2 linked regions of the Homo sapiens genome follow. The protein of the gene in region 1 purifies or fractionates together with the protein of each later gene. This does not show direct contact. Each region holds a gene or a part of one and is shown on either strand. Other genes may lie near its edges.

Region 1 (3,654 bases):
CACACGAGATAACCCCAGAACATCCTGTGCCCAGCGGGACAATCCCAGAGCCTCCTCTCCCAACAGAACCACCCAACAAGACAGCCCCAGAACATCCTGTGCCCGACGGGACGATCCCAGAGCCTCCTCTCCTAACAGAACCATCCAACAAGAGAACCCCAGAACATCCTGTGCCCTACGGGACAATCCCAGAGCCTCCTCTCCCAGCAGAACCATCCAACAAGAGAACCCCAGAACATCCTGTGCCCAACGGGACGATCCCAGAGCCTCCTCTCCTAACAGAACCACCCAACAAGAGAACCCCAGAACATCCTGTGCCCGACGGGACAATCCCAGAGCCTCCTCTCGCAACAGAACCATCCAGCGAGACAACCCCAGAACATCCTGTGCCCAGCGGGACAATCCCAGAGCCTCCTCTCCTAACAGAACCATCCAACAAGAGAACCTCAGAACATCCTGTACCCGACAGGACAATCCCAGGACCTCCTCTCCCAATAGAGCCACACGAGACAACCCCAGAACATCCTGTGCCCAGCGGGACAATCTCAGAGCCTCCTCTCCCATCAGAGCCACCCAACAGGACAACCCCAGAACTTGTATTCAACAGAACATCCCCAGATCATCTTCTACCCAACAAGACAACCCTAAAACCTCTTGTACCAAACGAGATAACCTCAGACCCACTTGTACACAGCGGGACCGCACACAGTCCTTTTCCTTTCAACGAGACAACCCTGGAACCTCCTCATCTCAATGCTGCACCCAAAAGGAGAATCTGAGACCATCATCTCCCCACCGCTCCACTCAATGGAACAATCCCAGGAATTCATCTCCCCATCGTACTAACAAAGACATCCCCTGGGCCTCGTTTCCCCTCCGGCCAACTCAGAGTGATGGTCCCCGAACCTCTTCCCCATCTCGCTCCAAGCAAAGCGAGGTTCCCTGGGCATCCATCGCCCTCCGGCCAACCCAAGGTGACAGGCCTCAGACATCCTCTCCCAGCAGGCCAGCCCAGCATGACCCACCCCAGTCCTCCTTTGGCCCCACCCAGTACAACTTGCCATCCCGGGCCACCTCTTCCTCCCATAACCCAGGCCACCAGAGCACCTCCCGAACTTCCTCACCTGTGTACCCCGCTGCCTATGGGGCTCCCCTGACCTCTCCTGAGCCCTCCCAGCCTCCATGTGCTGTGTGCATTGGGCACCGGGATGCCCCTCGAGCCTCTTCGCCCCCTCGCTATTTGCAGCACGACCCCTTCCCCTTCTTCCCAGAGCCCCGCGCCCCTGAGAGTGAACCGCCCCACCACGAGCCTCCCTATATACCACCTGCTGTGTGCATTGGACACCGAGATGCCCCCCGGGCGTCCTCGCCCCCCCGCCACACCCAATTTGACCCCTTCCCCTTCCTCCCAGACACATCAGATGCCGAGCATCAGTGTCAGTCCCCCCAACACGAGCCCCTTCAGCTCCCTGCACCTGTGTGTATTGGGTACCGAGATGCACCCCGGGCCTCCTCCCCACCACGCCAGGCCCCAGAGCCTTCCCTCTTATTCCAGGACCTCCCCAGGGCCAGCACAGAGAGCCTTGTCCCTTCCATGGACTCTCTGCACGAGTGCCCCCACATCCCCACCCCTGTGTGCATTGGGCACCGGGATGCACCCTCCTTCTCATCCCCACCACGCCAGGCTCCTGAGCCATCCCTCTTCTTCCAGGATCCCCCTGGAACTAGTATGGAGAGCCTGGCCCCCTCCACTGACTCTCTGCATGGCTCCCCAGTGCTGATCCCCCAAGTGTGCATCGGGCACCGGGATGCACCCCGAGCCTCCTCCCCACCCCGCCACCCACCCAGTGACCTAGCGTTCCTGGCACCCTCACCTTCACCGGGCAGCTCTGGGGGCTCCCGGGGCTCAGCGCCTCCCGGGGAGACCAGGCACAACTTGGAGCGGGAGGAGTACACTGTGCTGGCCGACCTGCCCCCACCCAGGAGGCTGGCCCAGAGACAGCCAGGGCCCCAGGCGCAGTGCAGCAGCGGGGGCCGCACCCACAGCCCTGGCCGTGCAGAGGTGGAGCGCCTCTTCGGGCAAGAGCGCAGGTGAGCCCGGGGGTGGGGTCAGCCAGGTGGGCTGGGGAGGAGGCTCGGCAGCAGGACAGGTGAAGGGTTAGGGTGCCAAAAGAAAGTGTTCAAATCCCCCTGGCTTGCCATTTACCGGCTGTGTGACCTTGGGCAAATCGCTCCATTTCTCTGTTTCTGCATATTGGGAGTTTTCTGTTTTGTGTGTGTGTGTGGTTAAGTGATGTCATGCACAGCCCAGTGGTTAACAGCAAAGACTGCAGTCAGGAGGGCTGAGTCCAAATCCTGGGTCAAAGCCACATGTCAACTCGTATGACCTGATATAGTGAGTTAACCTACCTGAGCCTCAGTTTCCTCATCTGTAAGGGAGGGGAACATGAGCACATTCATTCAAATAAGGGTGAACTGTCTTTTTATTTTTTATTTTTTGTTTTTTTTTTTGAGGTGGAGTTTTGCTCTTGTTGCCCAGGCCGGAGCGCAATGGTGCAATCTCGGCTCACTGCAACCTCCACCTCCTGGGTTCAAGCGATTCTCCTGCCTCAGCCTCCCGAGTAGCTGGGATTACAGGCACGTGCCACCACACCCGGCTAATTTTTTTGTATTTTTACTAGAGACGGGGTTTCGCCATATTGGCCAGGCTGGTCTCGAACTCCTGACCTCAAGTGATCCACCCGCCTCGGCCTCGCAAAGTGCTAGGATTACAGGAGTGAGCCACCGTGCCCGGCCAAAATGAGAGTGAACTCTCAAACCCTTTGATCCAGACTCATGGGTTTTTTTTTTTTTTCTTCCGTGCATGAGGGAGAAGAAGAAAGTACCCATGATTTTTTCCTGCCTTGGCAAAGAAAACTCATGGGTCCCTATGCATTTCAGAAAACAGTTATGTCAATTTAAAATGTATGGCCAGGGCCGGGCACGGTGGCTCATGCCTGTAATCCCAGCACTTGGGGAGGCCGAGGCGGGCGGATCACAAGGTCAGGAGATCGACAGCAGCCTGGCTAACACGGTGAAACCCCATCTCTACTAAAAATACAAAAAATTAGCTGGGCATGGTGGCGGGCGCCTGTAGTCCCAGCAACTCGGGAGGCTGAGGCAGGAGAATTGCTTGAACCTGGGAGGCGGAGCTTGCAGTGAGCCGAGATCGTACCACTGCACTCCAACCTGGGTGACAGAGTGAGACTCCATCTAAAAATAAAAATAAAATAAAAATGTATGGCCAGAGCTACCTATTTTAAGAAAGAAAGCTCACAGAATTATGGATTTTTAGCAGTCAAACATCCTGGGACACCTGAAGTCCAGGTGTCTTTTGAGTCTCCTTGGTCAGCAGCACTGGCCCCCTGGAAGGGGAGCATTTCCTCCTGATCAGGCTGAGGTTTCTCTCCCCAGAAGTTCCAGCCCTCGAGTTTTCAAGAATCAGAGCTAGAATTCCATTAGTTAGGGTCAAGAGAACAACAGCAACAAAAAGCAGTCTGGAAGTCTCAAAACTTTCCATGTATATAATTCAACGAATTTTTAGTTTATTTACCAAGTTGTCCAACCATTGCCACAATCTAACTTTAGAACATTTTCATCACCCTAAAGGGTATG
Region 2 (3,654 bases), on another chromosome or scaffold:
AATACTACTATTGGCTCAGAAGCTCATGAAATTTAAAAAAGAAAGCCAGGAAGGTAAATCAATCAATAGCTGTTTATACAAGTATAATTGCTGGATGGCAGCGTTGGTTTTTTTTCTTTGTAATTATTTATGTACACTTTTCACAAAATTTAAATAATCTATCTGACCCACTCAAATGAAAATATTTAAAAAGCATGTTCAAGCTTATGGCATTACAATCATATTCTTCTGAAACTTTATCTTACTTTCATAATGATTAGATTCAGTATATTTTTCAATGTATATGTGATTGTATTCTGGTGTTTGTTTGTTTTGTTTTTTTTTTGAGACAGAGTCTTACTCTGTCACCCAGGCTGGAGTGCAGTGACACAATACAGCTCACTGCAGCCTTGATCTCCCAGGATCAGGCGATTCTCCTATTTCAGCCTCTCAAGTAGCTAGGACTACGGTGCACAGCACCATTCCCGGCTAACTTTTTCATATTTTATTTGTAGAGACAGGGTTCTGCCATGTTGCCCAGGCTGGTCTCAAACTCCTGGGCTCAAGAAGTCTGCCCACCTTTGCCTCCCAAAATACTGGGATTACAGGTGTGAGCCACTGCACCCAGCCTGCTGGTTTGTTTTTAACAATATTTTGCTTTGAGTTTTTTTTTTTTTTTTAGAAGAAGAATCTCTGATACTATCATATTACCAAAACTGAACAAGTCTTCTCTTCAGGCCCCTCTTTTTATATGAATTTGTTTTGAAGAGTTTTTTTCATTGAGCTGGTTTTTTGTTTGTCATGGGTGTCCAGGAAGATGTCAGCTGTGTGAGCGATGGGTTGGTGGAGCACTCAGGTGGAGATGGAGAGGAGACCTGGGCACCTCCTGTGGCTGAGTCACAGTTCTCCACTGGTCCCCATGTCTCCTTTCAGGAGGAGAAGTGGGGCCTCCAGCCCTCCCAAGTTCTGATGTGGAAAAAAGCCGAGGGATTTCCACAGTGGAAATGTATTTGAGTTTTGAAGTTCCACCTAGTTCCTGGACCAGCCCCTCATGTTTCACATGGCGATTCTGTTGTCCTTTGTTTCAGCTAGAAAATAAACTTTGTTCAGTCTTGCCCCAAATGAGAAGTTCTAGGCAGCCAGGTATTTGGCAAGAGTATAAGAGTCCCACCAAGGTTTAAAGTATAAAGTTGAATTTCTAAGCAAGCCTAAAGAGTATGTGCAATACACATCTTCTGATTTTATGTTGTTACATGTCGTGAGGGGTTTGGTATCTTCAAGTAAAGGTTTTAAAGGAACCTGAACTAGACTCAAACTTGACCCTCTGATGCTAATCGAAAATACACAATCATCAAATGGCATTCTTACTCCATTTTTTAACTATTACATATCCCATTTTGACAAGTTATTCTTACCTTTTTTACATAGGTCGAACTGGAAGGTACACCCTTATAGAGAAATGGAGAGATACTGAAAGACACTTAGCACCTCATGAAAATCCTATCATATCCTTAAACAAATGGGGGCAGTATGCTAGTGATGTGCAGCTCATTCTACGACGAACTGGGCCGTCTCTCAGTGAGCGACCCACTTCAGACAGTGTGGCTCGAATTCCTGAAAGAACTTTATACAGGCAGAGTCTGCCCCCCTTAGCTAAACTGAGGCCTCAGATTGACAAATCAATCAAAAGGAGGGAACCGAAAAGGAAATCACTGACATTTACAGGAGGTGCCAAAGGATTAATGGACATTTTTGGAAAAGGTAAAGAAACTGAGTTTAAGCAAAAGGTGCTGAATAACTGCAAAACAACAGCAGATGAGTTGAAGAAGCTAATCCGTCTGCAGACAGAGAAGCTTCAATCCATTGAGAAACAGCTGGAATCTAATGAAATAGAAATAAGATTTTGGGAGCAAAAGTATAATTCCAACCTTGAAGAGGAAATTGTCCGTCTAGAGCAAAAGATCAAAAGAAACGATGTAGAAATTGAGGAGGAAGAATTCTGGGAAAATGAATTACAGATTGAACAGGAAAATGAAAAACAGCTGAAGGATCAACTTCAAGAAATAAGACAGAAAATAACAGAATGTGAAAACAAATTAAAGGACTATTTGGCACAGATCCGGACTATGGAAAGTGGTCTTGAAGCAGAAAAATTGCAACGGGAAGTTCAAGAGGCACAGGTCAATGAGGAAGAGGTTAAAGGAAAGATCGGTAAGGTCAAAGGGGAGATTGACATTCAAGGCCAGCAGAGTCTGAGGTTGGAAAATGGCATCAAAGCTGTGGAAAGATCTCTTGGACAAGCCACCAAACGCTTACAGGTAGGGACACTTTGATAAATAGAATGTTTGGCCCATGTAAAATAGTATCTTCTTGGAATCTCCTTTTCATCATTGTCAATTTTTCCTTATATTCAAAGAATTAGAAACCCAGCCTTGTTTAAAACTTTTGTCGAACTCTTGTGACTTACGACAGCTTAGATGGGAGCAGTAGCCTTGCGGATCCTTCTCCATGGAAGAGCCTTGTCTTACTGTGACAGTTGTAGCGTTAGATAATGGGATGGAATGGACACTAATGATGAGATAGTGAATCTCACCTTCTCCTTTCAGAGATAGGGAAACTAGAGCTGAAAGAGCTGTCCATGGATTGGTTGGCCAGGGATTGTTGTGGCTAGCTGACTGCTTATCTGTCACTTCTCCATTGTTGCCAGCCAATCCCAGCTTCTTTCCTGACACATAAACAGCCCCCGTCCCTTCTCCCCTCTCCACAGTACCCTCCTTTGCTTTCCTGAGAGAGGCACAAAGATTTCTGTCTGATTTTCCCCCTTTCTAGTTCACATACGAGAAGTTCTATTTTGCCACTTAAACCCTAATCACTCAACTTACATTTCTTGGATACCCATTCTTGAAAAGACCCTGTGATTATGTTGCGGAAGTTGCAAAGATGTATCAAACAGTCTGTATCAGATGGGACGAGAAAGAGACACAATTGATTACAATATGGCTACTTAAATTTAAATTAAGATTAAATAATAAGGCAGTTAAATTATTAAATAATTTAAAATTCTGTTTTTAGTCACACATGGTCACATTTCAAGTGCCCAGTAGCTGCTGTACGGGCCGTGCAGACACAGAACATTTCCACCATTGAAGGAGGTTCTGTTGGACTGTGCTGGTTTAGAGCTTACGATTCAAAGTGTAGTCCATGCCAGGCAGCTCCAGGGTACTACTTGTAAGAAATTCAGAATCTACATTGAAACAGGATGCCCAAGTAATACCTGTGTACAGTGAGGTTTGAGAAGAGCTGCTTTAGAACATCAACAGTTAGTTCCACAATCAGAGAAAGCTGAGGTTTTAGGAAGAACTGATGTGATCTCCTTTCTCCGTCATTATCTGTAGTAAGAGATAAAACTACCACCCAAATTTTGAAAATCAAGAATTTCTCATGCAGTAGAAGCTTGTCAGCCTCTAATTTGTCAGTATTTTACTATTGGGATTCATTTTGACATTTAAAAAAAGGTACAAGTGGAAGTTGTGTTGCTTTTGATATCACAGAAAACACTAACTTATCACAGTCATTACTAGCAAATCCCTCTACCCACTGAAAAGTGTCTGATAATCAAATATTGATATATCCCCAAGTACCCCCTACACTCAAATAAGTGGAGAAAACAACCAT

What was found. Proteins that work in one complex are often made in the same cells at the same time.
Region 2: the proteins of TRIOBP (region 1) and RASSF8 purify together in Homo sapiens (co-immunoprecipitation; one large-scale study listed by IntAct). This does not show direct contact.

The regions. Positions count from the first base shown.
Region 1 is NC_000022.11:37,724,413-37,728,066, forward strand, and holds part of TRIOBP (TRIO and F-actin-binding protein), read left to right. Parts: coding exon 1-2,091; intron 2,092-3,654.
Region 2 is NC_000012.12:26,063,091-26,066,744, forward strand, and holds part of RASSF8 (ras association domain-containing protein 8), read left to right. Parts: intron 1-1,407; coding exon 1,408-2,297; intron 2,298-3,654.